Linked DNA regions of Homo sapiens: all the other regions are linked to region 1. The links come from fine-mapping of genetic effects on gene expression. A gene starts in region 1. Each other region holds a variant in brackets. All regions are shown on one strand. Distances are from middle to middle. Region 1 holds the start of POLD3 (DNA polymerase delta 3, accessory subunit). Region 2 has its middle 56 kb from the start of MIR4696. Region 3 overlaps POLD3 (DNA polymerase delta 3, accessory subunit). Region 4 overlaps POLD3 (DNA polymerase delta 3, accessory subunit).

Evidence for each region. PIP is the estimated chance that this variant, and not a neighbour inherited with it, causes the effect.
Region 2: its variant is the best candidate, but not a certain one, in a credible set for the expression of POLD3 in liver (GTEx, PIP 0.65).
Region 3: its variant is the best candidate, but not a certain one, in a credible set for the expression of POLD3 in whole blood (INTERVAL, PIP 0.84).
Region 4: its variant is the best candidate, but not a certain one, in a credible set for the expression of POLD3 in monocytes (TOPMed, PIP 0.76).

Annotation. Positions count from the first base shown.
Region 1 is chr11:74,590,161-74,595,313 of GRCh38, forward strand. POLD3 (DNA polymerase delta 3, accessory subunit) reads left to right here and starts at 2,422. Exons shown (of 12, transcript NM_006591.3): 1 at 2,422-2,558; 2 at 3,901-3,956. The coding sequence starts at 2,499. RefSeq lists an enhancer at 2,084-2,717.
Region 2 is chr11:74,661,684-74,666,836 of GRCh38, forward strand. It overlaps a transcript of POLD3 not described here. Among named protein-coding and RNA genes, the nearest start is that of MIR4696, 56 kb to the right of the region's middle. The variant T/C (reference allele first, on the strand shown) is at 2,747.
Region 3 is chr11:74,618,163-74,623,315 of GRCh38, forward strand. It overlaps POLD3 (DNA polymerase delta 3, accessory subunit), which reads left to right. Exons shown (of 12, transcript NM_006591.3): 6 at 375-642; 7 at 1,855-1,927. Among named protein-coding and RNA genes, the nearest start is that of POLD3, 28 kb to the left of the region's middle. The variant A/G (reference allele first, on the strand shown) is at 2,672.
Region 4 is chr11:74,612,032-74,617,184 of GRCh38, forward strand. POLD3 (DNA polymerase delta 3, accessory subunit) reads left to right here. Exons shown (of 12, transcript NM_006591.3): 5 at 847-979. Among named protein-coding and RNA genes, the nearest start is that of POLD3, 22 kb to the left of the region's middle. The variant A/G (reference allele first, on the strand shown) is at 2,572.

The sequences.
Region 1 (5,153 bases):
GATTCCTGTTTTTTCCACACTCCACTCGTGTAATTCATCAGCAGGTTTTGCCGACTCTAAAACAAAACTCAAGTCACTCAGTTCTCTCAATTTCCACTACCACTACTCTATTTTAAAAAATGTATTGGTTTGGCGTTGTGGCTTACGCCTGTAATCCCAGCACTTTGGGAGGCCAAGGCAGGTGGATCACCTGAGGTCAGGAGTTCGAGACCAGCCTGGCCAACATGGCGAAACCCCCTCTCTACTAGAACTACAACAAAATTAGCCGGGTGTGGTGGCGCATGCCAGTAATCCCAGCAACTTGGGAGGCAGAGGCAGGAGAATCACTTGAACCCGGGAGGCAGAGGTTACAGTGAGCCGAGATCGCGCCATTGCACTCCAACCTGGGGAACAAGAGCAAAACTCTGTCTCAAAAAAAAAAAAAATTATTATTTTTTGAGACAGGGTCTCACTCTGTCACCCAGGCTGTATGCAGTGGCATGATCAAGTGCTCACTGCAACCTCTACCTCCTGGGCTCAATCCATCCTCCCACTTCAGAACTGGGACCACAGACCACAGACCACAGGCTCGTGCCACCATGGCTTTTTTTTTTTTTTTTTTTAGTAGGGACGGAGTTTCAGTATGTTGCTCAGGCTGGTCTCGAACTCCTGGGGCTCAAGTGATCCACTTGCCTTGGCCTCCCAAAGTGCTGGGATTATAGGTGTGAGCTACTGTGCCTGGCACTGCTACCCTATTTTATTTTATTTATTTATTTTGAGGGGGGTCTCACTCTGTTTCCCAGGCTGGAGTGCAGTGGCACCATCTCAGCTCACCGCAACCTCGGTCTCCCAGGTTCAAGTGATTCTGCTGCCTCAGCCTCCCGAGTAGCTGGGATTACAGGCGTGTACCACCACACCTGGTTAATTTTTGTATTTTTAGTAGAGACGGGGTTTCGCCATGTTTGCCAGGCTGGTCTCGAACTCCTGACCTCAGGTGATCTGCCTGCCTCGGCCTCCCAAAGTGTGGGATTACAGGTGTGAGCCACTGCGCCGAGCCATTTTATTTTATTTTTAGACGGAGTCTCTCTCTGTTTCCCAAGCTGAAGTGCAGTGGCATGATCTCGGCTCACTGCAACCTCCACCTCCTGGATTCAAGACATTCTCATGCCTCAGCCCTGGGAGTAACTGGGACTATAGGCACGTGCCACCACGCCCGGCTAATTTTTATATTTTTAGTAGAGACAGGGTTTCACCATGTGGGCCTGGCAGGCCTCGAACTCCTGACCTCAGGTGATTCATCCCCCTAGGCCTCCCAAAGTGCTGGGATTACAGGCGTTAGCCACCGCGCCCGGTCTGCTACCCTATTTTAAACCACCACTATCTTTCACTTAAAAATCTCAGAATGTAAGTTACATGTGAACAGGCTCGGTTTATTATTGCTCATAGCTGCAGCCCCAGCACCTCAACACTCAGAATAGTATCTGGCCTTTCTCAGGATTTTGCTATGCTTTGAATGAATGCATGTCGCGACAAGCCTTTGAAGTAGGTACTGTTATTATTCCCATTTTATAGATAAGGAAATAGGCTCCTAGTGGCTAAAGAATTACCTAAGTTTACACAACAAACAGCAAAACCAGGATTCAAACCCAGTAAGTCTGACTCTAGAGCCCACTCTCTTACGCACTACACCTGCGATACTGAACTGCACCGGCTTATGCTGAAGTCAATTATTAAAGATTTTTGCGGGGGTGATACTAGGAGAAATTTGAGTTGAAATTCCCCAACCTGATAACTTTTCTCCAAGTTTTCCTGAGAACACAGCTCAAGCGCCTCTTCACAGTCTCCTAGGCACAACGATTTGGTTTCTCCCAAGTCTCTCTCATCCGCCTCTTCTCCTAACAATCCAGAGATAATGAACTCTTTTCCAGCAAATTCTCCTGCTTCTATCCGAAACACTCAGCCTCTCCTCAACCCCTCTGGAAAAACCTTCCCTAATTTCTCAACTCTGAGGGATTATAACAGGCAGTACTTTTCCCCAGTTGGCAGCACTACTAAAATTACTTGTTTTCAATAGTCTCCCCTTTATCCTGGCTTTCCCGGGTTTCATCACGCGCAGCCAACCTCGGTAGGGAAATATTATACCCAATGACATCTGTTGAGAGACCATATTCACTAATGTTTATTACAGTATAATAATAATTGTTCTATTTTATCGTTAGTTATTTTTGTTAATCTCTTACTGTGCCTAATTTATAAATTAAACTTTATCATAGGTACGTAGGTATAGGAAAAAACCAGCCAGGAGGCCCCGCACTTCGGTGTTTTCTACTAGCTCTGCCTACCTCCGTCTGCGCCGTCTCCCTGACTAGTTTGACCCTTCGAGGGCCGCCGTAGTGCGTCGCCTCCGTTGCCGGGGAAACGACCCGGGACCTGGGAGGGAGCAAAGACGTTTCCCGCCGGCGGGAGCTGTGGCTGTGATTGAGAGAGGGGTTAGAGGCGGGTCCCAGCGCTGCCGCACCATGGCGGACCAGCTTTATCTGGAAAATATAGACGAGTTCGTCACGGACCAAAACAAGATCGTGAGCAGCTACTACTGGGGAACGCGGGCGTGCGACCGGGGTCCTGGGCCCGGCTAGGGCGGCGGGAGCCTTGACCCTCTGTCTGCTTGTGGCTTCGTGGGGACCAGGGGAGACAGGTCCCCACGAGGGGACCTGGGCGAGCTCTGTGCCCCAGAGCGAGCGAGGACTCGTCGGGAAGGTCCTCCAGCACACACGGAAGTCCGCGTCCCTTGGGTGGGCGTGCTGGGAACAGAGCCTGGGGCTGGAGCCGCGGAGACCGGGCGCGGAGGGAGGGCCGTTGGCTGAGAGTTCTAAGGCGTCCCTACACCTTTCTTTTAAGGTGGTTGGCGTTTAAAGTTTTAAGTTTACAGTTGAGGAAATCGTGTCTTAACTGTGTTAAGTTACAAGTTGCGTAACCTCCAGATACTGTTTCCTCTTCCTGGAAATTTAAGCATTGATAGAGGTTTGATCCGCTTCACACGGGTGAGGAAAAGATCGAGCGAATTGATGGATGTGAGTGCACTTTGCAAACCGTGATGATTGAGTGCCTGCTGTGTGCCAAGGCACTTTAATCTTTACAGTGACCTCCCCGCACCCCATCCCAGGTCGGTGGTGGTATCCCGAGATGAGGAAATTGAAGCTGAGGGGCCAAATAACTTGTTTATTTGCGTTTGGTAAGGGATAGGCAGTTTTTCAACCTAGGTCTGTCCTCTTACTAATGCTTTCTTCTACATCACACTGCCTTTGCCTAACCTGTGCAAGTCTTCTAACTATTGGAAGCTTGACATTTGGAATTGGAAGAGACTTTGAGAGAAGAGAGTGCAGGCATCCTGGGTCTAGGAGGGATGAAGGCTTGATGCTGGTAGTTCCCAATCTAATCTCTTATAAAAATATTTACCCACTTTTTTCGTTTCCTGACCCCTGCACCACCTGTGCCCTTTAATGTTTGCATGGGTGCAACTTTCTTTAGAAGTTTCTGAGACATCACACTTCAAAGTCATCTAGCTTCTGAATGAGTTTTAGGATGGCTTTGGCTGGTGGCCCCCAAAAAAAACATCATGAGGAAAGGGCCTGAGTAAAACAAGGAATGTGAGGAAAATGAGAGTTTTTTCTGTTAGGTATGTTCAGCTTGTCTTTTTAGATTACTTTTCATTAGTTCATGAAACAAACTTCTTAGCATTTTTAAGATAAATAGGTCCTGCCTACCCAGATAGATAGTTCTTGGGAAAACTGCAGTGGCATTTATTGTAATTTGTAAGGCATAATCATCTAAGAATAGGAATCTTTAGCAACAGACCTTCGGGACTGATGTGCACTCTGGAGTCATCTAATAAAACATTTGAAAAATTTTTTCTTGTTACAGGTGACATACAAATGGCTGAGCTATACACTAGGGGTTCATGTTAACCAGGCCAAACAGTAAGTCCAATTTACTACCAATTTTAATCATATTGGAATTTTTTTTTGTTTTGTTATGCTTTGCTTTTAACTCTACAGATAGCCTACATAGATTAGAGCTAATTTGGTTTGCTGGCAATCATTGGTATTTCTTGGCTTGTAGCTGCGTAATTCCAATCTCTGCCTTCATTGTCATGGCATTCTCCCTGTATATCTGTATCTTTGCACGTCCATCTTATATGAACACCAGTCATACTGAATTACGAATCCACCCTACTCCAATATGACCTTGTCTTAACTAATTACATGTGCTATAATTCTATTTCTAAATAAGGTCACATTTTAAGGTATTGGGGGTTAGGGCTTTAACATTACCTTTTTGGAGACATGATTCAGTCTGTAATATGGATACAACAAGTTTTGTTTATTCATCATTAATGGACATTTGGGTTATTTCCATATTTTGACTGCTATGAATGATGCTGTTATGAACATTCATGTATAAAACATTCATCTATAAGTGTTTATATGAACATATATTTTCAGTTATCTTGGGTATTTGTGTTAGTCCATTCTCATGCTGCTATGAAGACACACCTGAGATTGAATTTATAAAGACGAGGTTTAATTGACTCACAGTTCCGCATGGCTGGGGAGGCCTCAGGAGACTTGGCGGAAGGCATCTCTTCACAGGGTGGCAGGAGAGAGAATGAGTGTCGAGCGAAGGGGGAAGCCCCTTGTAAAACCGTCAGATTTCGTGAGAACTCACTATCATGAGAAGAGCATGGGGGAACTGCCCCCATAATTCAGTTATCTCCACCTGGTCCGTCTTTGACATGTGGGGATTATTACAATTCAAGTTGAGATTTGGGTGGGGACACAGCCAAACTAGGATTGGAATTGCTGGGTCATGAGATAATTCTGTATTTAACATTTTGAGGAACTGACAAACTATTTTTCAAAATGGCTGCGCTTCTTACAGTCCTAACAGTATATGAGTATTTCAGTTTCTCCACATTCTGGTTAACACTAACACTGTTTTTTCCCTCAGACTTCTCATGGATGAACTCTTTTTTTTTTTTTTTTTTTTTTTTGAGATGGGGTTTCACTATGTTGCCCAGGCTGGATTTGAACTCAAGGATCCTCCCGCCTCAGCCTACCAACTAGCTCTACAGGTGTACATCACCACACCTGGCAAAAACTTTTTATTATGTCTTA
Region 2 (5,153 bases), 72 kb after region 1:
CTAGCTTTCACCTATGTTCACTCAAGGCCCTAGAGTTCCACAATCAGCAGGTAGTGAAGCCAGCCAGGTTTGTGTCCTTTTCTTCAGGGCAGCAAGTTCTCTTAGGCCCCAGGTGGGTCCAGAGATGCTGTCTGGGAGCCAGGGACTGGAGTAAAAAACCTTATAAATCTACCTTGTGCTCTATTCTACTGTGGTTAAGCTGAACTCATGCTACGAGACAAAGTCCTTTCTACTCTTCCCTTCCCTTTCCACAGGCCGAGGAGCCTCTCCCAATGGCCACCACCACCACAGGCCCATGGGGAGTACTGCCAGTCTCACTGATGTTCACTTACAGCCCAAGGGCTCTTCTGTCAGCTTATGGTGAATGCTGCCAGGCCTGGGACTCGCCCTTCAGAGCAGTGGGCTCCTCTCTGGCCCAGGGCAGGTCCAGAAATACCTTCCAAGAGCCAAGGCCTGGAATTGTGGATCCCAAGAGCCCGTTTGGTACTGTACCCCACTGTGGGCAAGCTGGTTACTTAAGTGTAAGACAAAGTCCCCTTTACTTTTCCCTCTTCTTTTCTCAAGCGGGAGTCTCTCACCATGGCCATCACAGCTGGGAATGTGCTGGGTCTCACCTGAAGCCAGCATGTCTCAGAGTCTCACCAAGGCCCATGGCGTACTACCTGGTTATTGCTGCTCATTATTCAGAGCCCAAGGGCTCTTTAATCAGCAGGTGATGAATCCTGCCTGACCTGGCCCCTTCTCTTCAAGGGAATAGGTTTTCTTCTGGACCAGGGTGTGTCTAGAAATATCTGGGAGCTAGGGCCTGGAACGGGGGCCTCAAAACTCTTCCCACTGCCCTATCCTGTCGTGCCTGAGCTGGTATCCAAAATGCAAATCAAAATTCTTTTTACCCTTCCCTCTCCTCAAGCAGAAGGAAGCAGTCACTTTCATTGCTGAGAACTGTGCTGCTTGGAGTTGGAGGAGGAGTGGCACAAGCACTCCATTAGCCAACCCAGCTGGTGTCTCACTAGGTCACATGCCCCCCAGGTCCACAAGCTCCAAGCCCAGCACAACACTAAGACTTGCCTAGGAGTTGCAGTCCTTGTGGCACAGACTGCCTTTCAAGTTTACTTAGGACCCCAGAACACTTTAGCCCACAGTGCTGAGGCTTCCCTAAACTCAGGTTCTGACTGCTGGGATAGGCGATTCCTCTCTGGCTATGGCTGGTCTAAGTGCTCCTTCCATGGACACACATCTGCTGAGTTCAGCCCAGTTTTGCTGAGTTCAAAGTCCCACAGTTGCTGCACTCTCCCTCCCCCAACCACACAGATTCTCTGTACCAAGGGCACTGCAAGGGGATGAGGGAGGGGTGGCATTGGTGATTCAAGACTATAATTTCGAAGTTAAAACCAGGTACTGTGATTGCTTACCTGATTTTTGGTTCCTATAAAGGTGCTTTTCTTATGTAAATAGTTGTTAAAATTTGGTGTTCCTGTGGGGAGGATGATCACTGGAAGCTTCTATTCAGCTATCTTACTCTGTCTCTGATGAGGGAAATTAAAGAAACTAAATTAATGGAGTAATATACCACATTTGTAGATTGGAAGAACGCAATATTGTTAACTTGTCAGTTCTCTCCAAATGGATCAATAGGTTCAAAGCAATGCCAATCAAATTTCTAGTAGGCTTTTTTGTAGAAATTGGTAAGTTGAAGTTCTAAAATTTGCATGGAAATGGAAAAGATGTAGTATAAAGCAGTCTTGTAATAAGACAGAGGTGAAGAACTTACATTTGATTTCTAGACTTACAGTAGTGCCACAGTAGTCAAGACAGTGTGGTGTTGACATAAAGATAGAAAAAATAGATCAATGGGACAGAATAGTTAGTCTGTAAATAGTGGTTGATTTTCATCCAAGGAGGAAAAGCAATTCAATGTGGAAAGAAAAGTCTGTTCAACAAACGATGCTGGAACAACTGGCTATTAAAATGTTTTTAGAAGAAAATATATAGAAGAACATTTTCATCATCTTTGGATAGTCAAACTTTTTTAGGACCCAGAAAGCAATAACCATAAAAGAAACATCAATAAAATGGAATTCATCAAAATTTAAACCTTCTGCTAAGCAAAAGACACCATTAAGAAATAAGTAGGAAAACCATAGAATGTGAGTTAGTTATCACCATGCATATATCTCTATCTCTCTATGTCTATATATTTGACAAAAGACTTTTATCCAGTGTATATAAAAAACTTATACAGCTCAATATTAAGAAGACCCAATTAAAATCTAATTTTTAAAAAATGGGCAAAAAATAAGAACCGGCACTGAATAAAGGAAGATATACCAATGGCCAATAAGCACATGAAAATGTGTTTTAATATTATTATTCAGCAAAATGTAAATGAAAATGACATTGAGATATCACTACATGCCCATTAGAATGGCTAAAATCAAACGGTGGCAACAGCTTAAGTGGTAAGATTGTAGAATGTAAGCAAAAGTCTCATACGTTGCTGGTAGGAGTGACACAACCACTTTGAAAATTGGTCTGGAACTTTCTCATAAAGTTACCATGCATCTACCAAATGACCCAGCAATTATACTGTAAATATTTACCCAAGAAAATGAAAACATACATCCATACAAAGATTTGTACACTAATGTTCATAGCAGCTTTATTCTAAAACTGGAAACAACCCAAATATCTATCAACAGGTGAATGGATGAATAAATTGTGGTATATTCATATAATGGAGTACAGC[T/C]CAGCAATAAAAAGTATAAATTCTACCAAACACTTAGAGAAGATTTAATACCAAATTCTTCACAAACTCTTCCAAAAATTAGAAGAGGAGAGAACATTTCCCAACTTACTCTATGAGGTCAGTATTACTCTGACACCAAAACCAGACAAAGACATCATAAGAAAACTACAGACTAATATTCCTAATGAATATGGATGCAGAAATCCTCAAAAAAAAATTACGAAGATGAATCCAGTGACATATAAAAAGGATTTTGCACCATAAGCAAGAGGGATTTATCCTAGGAATTTAAGGTTGGTTTAATATCTGAAAAATCAATTAATATAATAAACCTTATCAATAGAATAAAGGACAAAAACCACACAATCATCTCAGTAGAGTCAGAAAGAGCTGGGTGTGGTGGCTCACGCCTGTAATCCCAACACTTTGAGAGGCCTAGGTGGGCAGATCCCTTGAGGTCAGGAGTTCGAGACCAGCCTGGCCAACATGCTGAAACTCTGTCTCTACTAAAAATACAAAACTTAGCCAGACATGGTAGCACATGCCTGTAATCCCAGCTATTTGGGAGGCTGAGGCAGGAGAATTGCTTGATCCCAGGAGACAGAGGTTGCAGTGAGCTGAGACCGCACCACTGCACTCCAGCCTGGTCAACAGAGTGAGACTCCATCTCAAAAAATAAAAATAAAAATAAAATAAATAAATAAATAATAAAATAAAAATAAATAAATAAAAATAAAAATTAGCTTGGCATGGGGCTGCATGCCTGTAGTCCCAGCTGCCTGGCAGGATGAGGCATGAAAATGAAAATCACTTGAACCCAGGAAGCGGAGGTTGCAGTGAGCCAAGATTGTGCCACTGCACCCCAGCCTAGGCAACAGAGCAAGACTCTGTCTCAAAAAAAAAAAAAATGAAATTAATAGAGCCAGAAGGAGCATTTGACAAAATCTAGCACCCTTTTATAATTTTTTTTTTTTTTTTTTTTTTTGAGACAGAGTCTTGCTCTGTCACCCAGGCTGGATGGAGTACAGTGGCACGATGTCGACTCACTGCAACCTCCACCTCCCAGGTTCAAGCAAGTCTCTTGCCTCAGCCTCCAGAGTAGCTGCAATTACAGGCATGCGCTACCACACCCGGCTAATTTTTGTATTTTTTAGTGGAGGGGGTTTTGCCATGCTGGCCAGGCTGGTCTCAAATTCTTGACCTCAGGTGATCCGCCTACCTTGGCCTCTCAAAGCACTGGGATTACAGGCATGAGCCACCATGCCTGGCCCCTTTCATAATTTTTAAAAAACACTAAACAAAACTAGAAATAGAAGGAAACTTCCTCTACCTCATAAAGGGTATCAACAAAAACCCACAGCTAACATCATACTTAATGGTGAAAGACTGAAAACTTACCCTTAGGATCAAAAATAAGACAAGGAAGTCTGCTCTCACCGCTTATATTCAACATTGTACTGGAGGCTCTAGCCAGGCAATTAGGCAGGAAAAAGAACAAAACGGATTCATTTTAGAAAGGAAGAAGTACAACTATTTCTGTATTCAGATGACATGATCTTCTATATAGAAAATCCTAAGGAATCCACTAAAAAACCTATTAAACCCAATATGTTAAGTTCAACAAGGCTTTAGGATACAAGCCCAATGTACAAACATCAATTATATTTCTACAAGCTAGAAATAATCTGAAAATGAAATTAGAAAACAATTGCATTTACAATGGTATCAAAAAGTTTAAAAGTACTCAGGAATACATACAACGAAGTGCAAAGCTTATATAAATTCTGAAATCTACAAAGCATTGTTTAAAGGGTGCAGTGGTTCACACCTCTAATCCCAGCTTCCTGGGATGCCTTTCCCATCTTGTTTGTCAGGAAATATCTTCTCATCTTTTAAAAAGCCATTTGAAGGCCAGACGCAGTGGCTCACGCCTGTAATCCCAGCACTTTGGGAGGCCGAGGCAGGTGGATCACCTGAGGTCAGGAGTTCGAGACCAGCCTGGCCAACATGGTGAAACCCTGTCTCTACTAAAAATACAAAAATTAGCTGTGTGTGGTGGCGGGCGCCTGTAATCCCAGGTACTTGGGAGGCTGAGGCCGGAGAATCACCTGAACCCAGGAAGTGGAGAGAGAGAGAGAGAGAGAAAGAGGACCTAAATAAATGGAAACACTTCATGTGCTCATGAATCAAAAGACTTAGTAGTATTCTTAAGATGGCAATACTCCCTAAATTGATCTACAGATTTAGTGCAATCTCTTATCAAAATCCCAGCTGGATTTTTTTTTCCCCAGAAATTGACAAGCTGACCCTAAAACTCATATGCAAATGCAAGGGACCAAGAACAGTCAAGACAATCTTGAAAAAGAAGAACAAAAGTGGAGAAATCCTTCTTGATTTCAAAACTTAC
Region 3 (5,153 bases), 28 kb after region 1:
AATGAAATTACTGCATCTTTTATTATTGTTGGTTGCATTCCTACTCTTTTGAATTAGAATACTTTTATCAAAAACAAGAATATTCAATTAGTGGTAGAAGGCACCTAATTCCAATCCTATCTATTACTAACTAGATGTATAACCTAGTAAAAGTGACTCACTTCTCTCTAATATTTGTTTCTTTATGTAATAGAGAGTTTCATACATTTTTCTAAAGTCGATTCTAAACAATATTAGAGTTAAGTATTGTGTGGAAGAAGCAAGAGTTTGAAAATAAAGTTTTATACTGACATTAGTTTTTTTTTTCTTTTTTTGTTGAACCACCCAAGAATGCATATGCTGACATTAACTTAATGTAACATTTCTGTCCCCAGATTTAGTGCTATACAATGTGCAGCTGCCGTCCCTAGAGCTCCTGCTGAATCCTCTTCGTCTTCCAAAAAGTTTGAGCAGTCACATCTTCACATGTCAAGTGAGACACAAGCCAACAATGAGCTGACCACCAATGGTCATGGCCCACCTGCATCCAAGCAGGTTTCCCAGCAGCCCAAAGGAATTATGGGAATGTTTGCCTCCAAAGCTGCTGCTAAAACCCAAGAAACCAACAAGGAAACGAAAACAGAGGCTAAAGAAGTAACAAATGTAAGTCTTCTTTGAAGATACCCCTTCATTGCAGCTCAGAGTGGGTAACTAGAAAAGCATTAATGGTTGCAGTGGTAGTAGTTTATTTATATAAGATTCTGATATTCAGTTCTGATTTTTCTACTTTAGTTTGAACCCTTTAATACTTGATATTGTTATCTGAAAGAGTTCTTTTGCTTTTGATAATGATTCTCACCAAACCTTGGATTTCCTTTGCAAAATGGTAATGCCTACCTTGTGCACATTACAAGATTGTTGTGAAACCCAGATGAAAACATGTGAAAACACCTCGAGAATTGTTGACATTCAAAAAAATGTTTATTTGCAATATGTCTTTCTGAGGAACATCTTATATTCTGGGCTTTGCAACATATACCTTCCTTCCTAGTGTATTTCCCATTCTTATACTTTATGCAGGTTTTTTTGTTTTGTTTTTGCCTTATTTGCTTCTCTTAGATTTTTATTGTTCAGTCATCTGAACTAACTCAAGGGCATTGACTTAAGAAAAGTATCATTAAGATACTATTTTAAAAATCCAGAAAAGCATAATTATTGTTGTTACTATTATTATTATCACTGTCATTTTCCAGTGTCAAGTGTATTTAATTCAGATCACTGTCATTTTCAAGCGTCTGTCTTGGGAAAGAAGAAGGATGGAGGAAAACACTAACGTTTATTGAATTTCAACTGTGTGCCAGTGTCTTTGTTTAAATCCTCTTATCAGTTCTGTGAGGGAGATATTAACTATTTCCCTTTCGCATATGGTAAAACTGAAACCTAGACTTAAGTAATTTGCCTGGAGCCCATATTGCTACTAAATGGTGGGAACCAGGAATTCAGATCTACTTCTGATGATTAAAAATGTAATGTTTTAGGTTTTCCCGCTTTGTGTACATACTGCCTCTGATCTTTTTTAATTCTGTCAAATTAAATAGTTTTTAAATGTGCTCAAGAAAAGTTTAGCTATATCCATGGATAATTAATTTTATAAGATATATAAGAAACTAAGCTTTAGAGATTAACACCAGTTACTGTCTGGTGTGGATTATTGTTCTAGATTTGTTCTTATATCTAACACCTACGCGTTTTGGCATGATTATATAGAGACTATACCATCGCAACAGTTTGCTATAGAAGAGTTTGTTTGAGACTGCTACTTCATGAACAGCCTAAATGCCAGCAAAAAATCATATGTGTTTTCTGTGCTTGTAGGCATCTGCAGCAGGCAACAAGGCACCAGGGAAAGGGAATATGATGAGCAACTTTTTTGGAAAAGCTGCTATGAGTAAGCATGTTCTTACCTCACTTTGACTAACGAATGAATGTTAATGTAATGACATATTATACCTGAAGTGAAAGCCACTTTGTCTAGTTTTTGCCAATCCAAGAGACTACCTGCATTCTAACAAATTTCCAGTGTACTGCCCAATATATTGATGAAAGTAACTCAGCTAGAACTTTATGGGTGAGTTAGGCTCAGTTGAGATCTCTTTGAGAGCAGTTTATTATTCCTGGTTTAACTTCCTGCCTTGAAAAGATAATGAACTATTTGCTTCATAGGGCCCTTGAAAATGGGTGATTAAAATAAAAGGGAGGCTGCCTGGCTACGCAGTATAGTGTTGAGGTTAATAACGTGGATGCTAGAGTCAGTTTGCCTGGTGTGACCTTTATTTCTTCTATCTCTCAAGGGTCCACAAAAGCAAATATTTTGCCTTTCTTCAGTTATTTTTTGCAGATTACTCACAGTAATGAATTAGACTTCCAGTGTGAATTAGAAGGGCCCAAGTAGTAATGGACATTTAAAAATCTTTTTTGAGAAAGCAAAAATCTTCTTTATTTTTAAAAAGATACTTAAGTAAGAATTCTTTCGTATGGAAAGAACCAGTAGTCACATATTTTCATACTTCTCATATCAAGTGTACATCCCCTGAGAGTATGTGGTAGAATACCAGGAAGAATGCAGGAGCCACAGGATAATTATGGCACACTTTCTTGGAGCATCAGTTTTACAAAGATTTTTCAAGGAGGC[A/G]TTTTGTTACATGCCTATGCAAGCAAAATTAGTTAGAATTCTGCCTTTCCATGATGGCTAAATTGGTGGTCACGGGAGGGATTGAAGTGACTTTTTTTTTTTTTTCATATTCTGCTTATGTAAGGGTGACAGTTTTTGTGTTTGCTGTAAAAGCTATCAGAGAACGTTTTTGTGTTCTTGCAGCTCAGAATGGGTAACTAGAAAAGTGAATGGAAAATGTGATACTTAAAGGTTACTCGGAAGCATTATTGTATTACTGCAGGCACAGTTGGTGCACAGGGAATGCTTCCTACTTCTGTTAAAACAGGTCTCCAACCCACAGTCCACTGATGGGTAGCAGTCCGTGGCCTCTTGGGAACCGGGTGGCACAGGAGGTGAGCAGCAAATGAGCAAGCGTTATTATGCCTGAACTCCACCTCCTGTCAGATCAGTGGTGGCATTAGATTCTTATAGGATTGTGAACCCTATTGTGAACAGCACATGTGAGGGATCTAGATTGCGGGCTCCTTATGAGAATCTAATGCCTGATCTGAGGTGGAACGGTTTCATCCTGAAACCACCGCCCCCGACCCCCCACCGCCGCCCACCACCACCCCTGTCTATGGAAAAATTGTCTTCCATGAAACTGGTCCCTGGTGCCAAAAAGGTTGGGGACTGCTGTGTTAAAGCATCATGCTGTCACTGACCTGCCTGGCTGTTATGGTTTTTTTTAAAAAAATCAAACCATACAGAAGTATGCTTATTTAAATCATGTGTTTAGTTAGCAAATAGATTGAGCACCTGCTATGTGCATGGCATTGTTATGCAGTGGTGATACAATAGAGGAAAAAGACAAACAAGGTCCCTGCCCTCAAGTCCTTATATTCTACTGAGAGAGATGGACAAATAAATATGGAAAAAAAGCCAGGCATGGTGGTACGTGCCTGTAATCCCAGCTACTCGGGAGACCGAGGCAGGAGATTTGCTTGAGCCCATGAATTCAAATCCAGCCAAAAATGTAGAAGACCTCATTTCTTTTTATTTATTTATTTATTTATTTTATTATTATTATTATACTTTAAGTTTTAGGGTACACGTGCACAATGTGCACGTTAGTTACATATGTATACATGTGCCATGCTGGTGTGCTGCACCCATTAACTCGTCATTTAGCACTAGGTATATCTCCTAAAGCTATCCCTCCCACCTCCCCCCACCCCACAACAGTCCCCAGAGTGTGATGTTCCCCTTCCTGTGTCCATGTGTTCTCATTGTTCAATTCCCACCTATGAGTGAGAATATGCGGTGTTTGGTTTTTTGTTCTTGCGATAGTTTACTGAGAATGATGATTTCCAATTTCATCCGTGTCCCTACAAAGGACATGAACTCATCATTTTTTATGGCTGCATAGTATTCCATGGTGTATATGTGCCACATTTTCTTAATCCAGTCTATCATTGTTGGACATTTGGCTTGGTTCCAAGTCTTTGCTATTGTGAATAGTGCCACAATAAACATACGTGTGCATGTAAGACCCCATTTCTTAAAAAAATAAAGGGAAAGGAAAGAAAGAAAACATTTGAATAGTGGATGATTGTAATTGCTAGGTAGGAGTAATAGGGTGTTATGATGGCATGTAACACGGTGAGGGGGAAAACCTGGATAAAATAAAATACTATTAAATATTAATCTAAAAATTGCTTACAAAGTTAATTTATTTGACATTTCTTCAAGGCTGAATGTTCAGAGTAAAATTATGACTTTTTTATTGTATTCGACACATGACAAGATCATTACAATGAAAATGAAGCTTGAGAATTGGATGAAGAGAGTTCACTGTGGGGACTTGAACCATTTAAAACTTAATACTGGACAGTAACAAGTGTTGGCAAGGATGTGGAGAAATTGAACCCTTGTGCTCTGCTGTAGGGAATGTAAAATGATGTGTACTCACTTTGGAAAATGATGTGGCAGTACTTCTAAAAGTTAAACATAGAGTTTACCCAGCAGTTCCTCTCCTAGATATCTACACAAGGGAATTAAAACTGTATGTCCACACAAAAACTTGTACAAGATGTTCATAGCAGCATTCTTCATAATAGCCAAAAATTGAAACAATCCAAAAGTCTGTCATCTGATGAATGGATAAACAAAGGTGGTATATCCAGACAATGAAATGTTATTCAGCTATAAAAAGTAATGAAGTACAGATGGATATGTGATATGACATGGATGAACCTTGAAATATTAAGTGAAAGAAGCCAGATAGAAAAGATCATATATTATTTCATTTATATGAAACGTCCAGAATAGGCAGGTCTATAGAGACAGAAAGTAGGGGCCGGGTGTGGTGGTTCACGCCTGTAATCCCAGCACTTTGGGAGGCCGAGGCGGGCGGATCACGAGGTCAGGAGATCGAGACCATCCTGGCTAACACGGTGAAACCCCATCTCTCCTAAAAAAATACAAAAAATTAGCTGGGCCTGTTGGTGGGCGCCTGTAG
Region 4 (5,153 bases), 22 kb after region 1:
CAAGATAAAACCTGTACTGTTGTACTTTGTATATAAAGGCTCCTTGGCCTGCAGGCCCCATTTCACAGATTGGGACTGAGGAGGGTGGAGGGCAGCCACGCCAGGGACACAAAAAATATGTGTATTTTAAAAAGAAAGAGTTCCTGTCCATGGGGGTAGGGTGGGGGTATTTTACCAAATTTAACTCTGAAGTATTCAGAGTGGTGGGTTTGTCCACTTTTTACTTTCTGAATTCCCACAGTGTTAAGCAAAGCAAAATTTCTTTATTCTGTAGATATGTAATGATGATCTACTATGTGCCAAGCTCTATACTAGGCACTGGGGACATGGAACAAGTTAGCTGCAATCCCTTCCTTCGCGGAACCTAACATTTATTCTTGTGGTGTTCTTTTGTGTTTCTCTTCCGTAGACTTATCTAGTTAGTAGTGTTTTTATTACAGAGTTGCTTTCTCTAAACTAAAATTGAAATATATAAATGAATATTCTCAGATAGAAATTACTTAGTACTCTTTAATTATATGCTATAGTGTAAGGCTCTTTTCTGACCAAAAGAAAAAGATCATCGTAGTCATCATCAATCATTAATATTTACTAAGTGTCCACTGGATGAGTGATACCCTCTCAGGTGCTGTCCTTAGAAATGACTCACCACCACCTACCTTGTCATAATGTCCCCATTGCAGACAGAAGAGTTGATGTTTCACTGTATATGTGGCTGTGTGGCCTTTAGAGTTTTTTGGACCACCACAGATTACAAATGCTTTAATGCAGAAGGGTTTCTTGTTAAAGTCCCCACATGCTATGAAGTTTGTGTATTAACTGACTGCTTTTCCTGTTGACTTGTAGCAGTGAAGTCCAAGCTAGCTGTGACTGCCAGCATCCATGTGTACAGCATCCAGAAAGCCATGCTAAAGGACAGTGGGCCTCTGTTCAATACTGACTATGACATCCTTAAAAGCAACTTGCAGAACTGCAGCAAGTAAGCGTCTTAATGTTCCTTGTGGGCTTCTTTACGAATTGATTTTGTAAGATGTTTACACAGTGGCTGCCTCTTAAGAGTGAATGCCAAGTCTAGTAAAACCCCATTTATCTTGCAGTAAGAAACATGCCTGGTTTTATTAGTACATCATAAGGTGAAAAATAGCAGCCACAACCCATATTGAAAACCCCAGTGGACTCTCCATAAATCTATTTCTCATGTATTTATCCTGTCACTGCCACCAGAAATGTTTGTCGTGCCCTCTCTAACTCCCTTACCCAGTCTCTGCTTGTCTAAATCCTACCCATCCTTCAAGAACCAGTTCAAACGTTGTCCTTAAAAAAACAGTTCCTAATTTGATATCCCTCTACTTTTCATCCAAAAGCAACTTTTTCTTGAGCTTCCATAGCCAGGATCAGGTTTTTTTTTAAATCTTTTGTATCCTTAACAGCACAAGGAGGTAACGGACTATAATGCGTGTACATTTTGGAAATTGGTGGTCACAGGCTTGATTTGTGGCTTTGCTGCTTAGTAGCCCAGTGGCATTGGACAAATTACTTAAACTCTTTGAGCTTTGGTTTCTTTGCCTTTAAATTCAATGTAATAATGTCTCCTTTGTGGGGTTGTATTGATAATTCAGATCAGTTCCCCAGACATACATTGAGCACCTACTACTTTGACAGGTACTGAGCAAAATCATTTGAATTCATTCAGCAAATAACTCATGAGTACCTATGACATACCATACAGTATAGAGTGAATGTGCCCGCGTACCTTTTCATGTAACTGATGGGAGACAGGCAGTTATGGTACAGTGTAAGAGTACTGTAATAGGAGGAATATTGGGGGAAGATGTTGGCAGGGGCACTTATCTCCCACTTTTGGATGGATAGAGTGAGGGGACAAGACTGTTATGACTTATGACACAGAAGGTTATGATATCTCAGTTGAGGCCTGAAGGCCCAGTAGAAATAGCCAGGCAAAGGAAAAATGAGAGACTAAGGACAGAGCTAAGAGAGAAAACATGCTTGTGCAGAACCATGATCGTTTTCTATGGGTGCAACTTAGAGTGAAAGGTAGGAAATAATTAGATAGAAGACTAAAGAGGCCAAGCAGGAATTACATTATGCTTTGACTACTAGGATAAAAATTTAGACTCTATTCTGAGAGCGCTGGGGAGCCACTGAAAATATTTAAGCAGATGGAGTGAAATTATCAAAATTGCATTTTAGAAAGATTGCTCTGGTTGCAGTATTGAAGATAAATCAGAAGAGAATAATCTGGAGGCAAGGCCATCAGGGAGGAGAAATGTGGCAGTAATCCAGGTGGATATGACAGTTTTCTAATGTGAAGTTGTGCTGTTGGGGATGGAGAAGTATGAAGGTTAATGAGTCATGACCATCAAAAAACCTCAGTTTGGCCGGGCACAGTGGCTCACGCCTGTAATCCCAGCACTTTGGGAGGCCGAGGCAGGTGGATCACGAGGTCAGGAGATTGAGACCATCCTGGCTAACACGGTGAAACCCCGTCTCTACTAAAAATACAAAAAATTAGCTGGGCACGGTGGCAGGCACCTATAGTCCCAGCTGCTC[A/G]GGAGGCTGAAGCAGGAGAATGGCGTGAACACGGAAGGCAGAGCTTGCAGCGAGCAGAGATCGCTCCACTGCACTCCAGCCTGGGCGACAGAGCAAGACTCCAGCTCAAAAAAAAAAAACCTCGATGTATGGTAGTGGTTGGGGACAAGGTGTGTGGGGGTAGGGGATGGTGGAAGACAGCCTTTCTTGGTATTGAAAGGTTGATACCCATGCTTCTGGCTTGGGCAGCTGGGTACTAAGAAGGGGAATATAACAGGAGGAGCAGGCTTTAGGAGAGATAGAAAAATGACAAATTGGGTTTTAGAGATGTTGAGTTTGAGAAGCTTGTGAGAAATCCAAGTGAGGATGTCCATCGCAAAAGATAGGTGAATCTAGAGCTAAGGAGAGAAATCTGGGGTAAAGATAGAGATTTTGAAATCAGAATAGTAAATGGGCCATAGCAGTAGATAGAGTTATCAGAGAGAATGTATAGAATGAAAGAAGGGCAGAAAGTAAAACTCTAGGCCAAAGTACTAGTTGTCTGACCTTGGGCAAATTATTTAACCTCTCAGTGCCTCCCTGTTCTTGTCAGTAAAGCTGACAGTAGTACCAGCCAGATAGGGTTGTAGAGGATTAAATGGACTATTATATGTTAAGCACTTAGAATAGCACTTGGCACATAGTAAGCACTATTTAATGATAGCTGCTTTTCAAGGGAAGAATAGAAAAAGAGGGGCCCAAGGGGAGCCACCAGAGATAAGAGTATATGGGGTTTCAGCCCCTAAGGAAAGAGGTTCAAGTAGGAGGAACCAGTCAACAATGTCAAACAATGCTGAGAAGCCAAGTAAGTTAGGAAGTGAAAATTGTCCATGACATTTAGTGATAGCCTTGGTAAGAGCATTTTCAGTGGAGTGACCAGATTCTGGTGAGCTAAGTAAATGGGGACAGAGGAAGTGAGACAGCAAATATGGACAGCTCTTTCCAGGAGATTAGACTGCAAAGCAGAAAAGAGGGTGGTAGCTAAGGAGGGATTGAGACGGGAAGGATATATACATTTCTTAAGTTGAGAATGACTTGAACTTGGGTTGTTAGAAAGGTGCTGTAGGAAGAAAAGGTTGAAAATCCTGGGGAGGTGGTATGACTGATAAAGATGGGTCCTCAAGGAGAGAAAGATATAGAATTGCCATAGTTTCTATAAGTTCCATGAGAATAGGGATCGTGTCTAAATTGTTAACTATATACCCAAAATAGTGCCTGGCACACTAATAAGTAGTTACTGAGTGAATTAATGATAGACATTAGTTCTTTTTTTTTCTTTAGCTCAAAACCTTGAGTATAATAAGCATACAAATATTTATTAAATAAATATATGGCCAAAGAGGAATAATTTACAAGTCTCTTATCTTTTAGGGAAGGATTTCAAGAAAATATTAACACCCTGATAAGTTTATTTGAAATATATTACTAGATTTCAAAAAATTTTAAAATCTAGTTGGGTATTCCAGGCTCTAAAAATCAGTTCCCTTGTTATATCTAGCAAGTAAGCAAACAAGAATAAAAGTGACGCAAAAGTTCAAAATGAAATCTGCCAGGGCCCACTAAAATAAACATGGCAAGTAGAAATGTGGTAATAGGAAGCACTTCAGTGAAACTTTACCTAAATACTTAAAGTATCCTCAGTAGAAAAGTGAATTTATCTCCAACAAATGAGTTTGTATTTAGTCCTGAGAATTATGGGCCAACTGAGATCTCACTTATGATTTCGTGTGTTTTAAGAAGTGCCGTGACATGAAGAGAGTTGAAATTTTAGGATTGAGCAGAGATCTCTTGTCATCAGACATACTCCTAGCCTAACTCGGTCTCTTCCTCATTGCCAATTCCTGGTCCTGACCCTATGGTGTAGAATTCAGACCAGAGGAGAAAGAGTTGTTTCAAGGCCAACTTCAGACGTTGACAGTGAAATAAAACATTACTCTTTTCCTTGTATATGGAAGCACTGCAAGGTCAGAGAGGAAGAGCAGTGGGTGAAAGCAAATGATTTCCGTCTGTTCTTAACTCTGATGCATAAAAGATGTGTGTAAATACAGAGTTTTCTGATGAAGACCATAATAAATCAGTGGAAGATTTTTGGAGCTTTTGACTCTAGCTTTGGGGCTGCCCAGTCTAAAGTTACTTCTGAGATGAAATGATGTATCAGGGATTTTTTTTTTTCATTAGGCCAGGTATTCTAGCAGTTAATCTTGAAGTTGTGCCTGGTTGATCTTTTAAGATAATTGCCATCACCACATAGTTTAGAAATCTCCCACCCCAAGTTGAAGGTGATACACTAAAGAAGGGAGAGAAGCCAGAAGCCTCACTTTCATTCACTTAGTCATTCTTTCAACATGTCGTTTCCAGCACTTTTCTATGTGCCAGGTCTTGAGCTGGGTGCCTGAAATAAAAAAGATAAATAAGACTTCAAGGAGGTCTTACATATGCTCAATAAGCAAGACTGGGAAAAATAAAATATTTTTCTTTGTTAGAAAAAGCTGGGGAACTTTGCTTTAAGTACAATCCTTTGAGAAGGCTAAATCAATTACCCATTCACAATGTGGAATGTTACA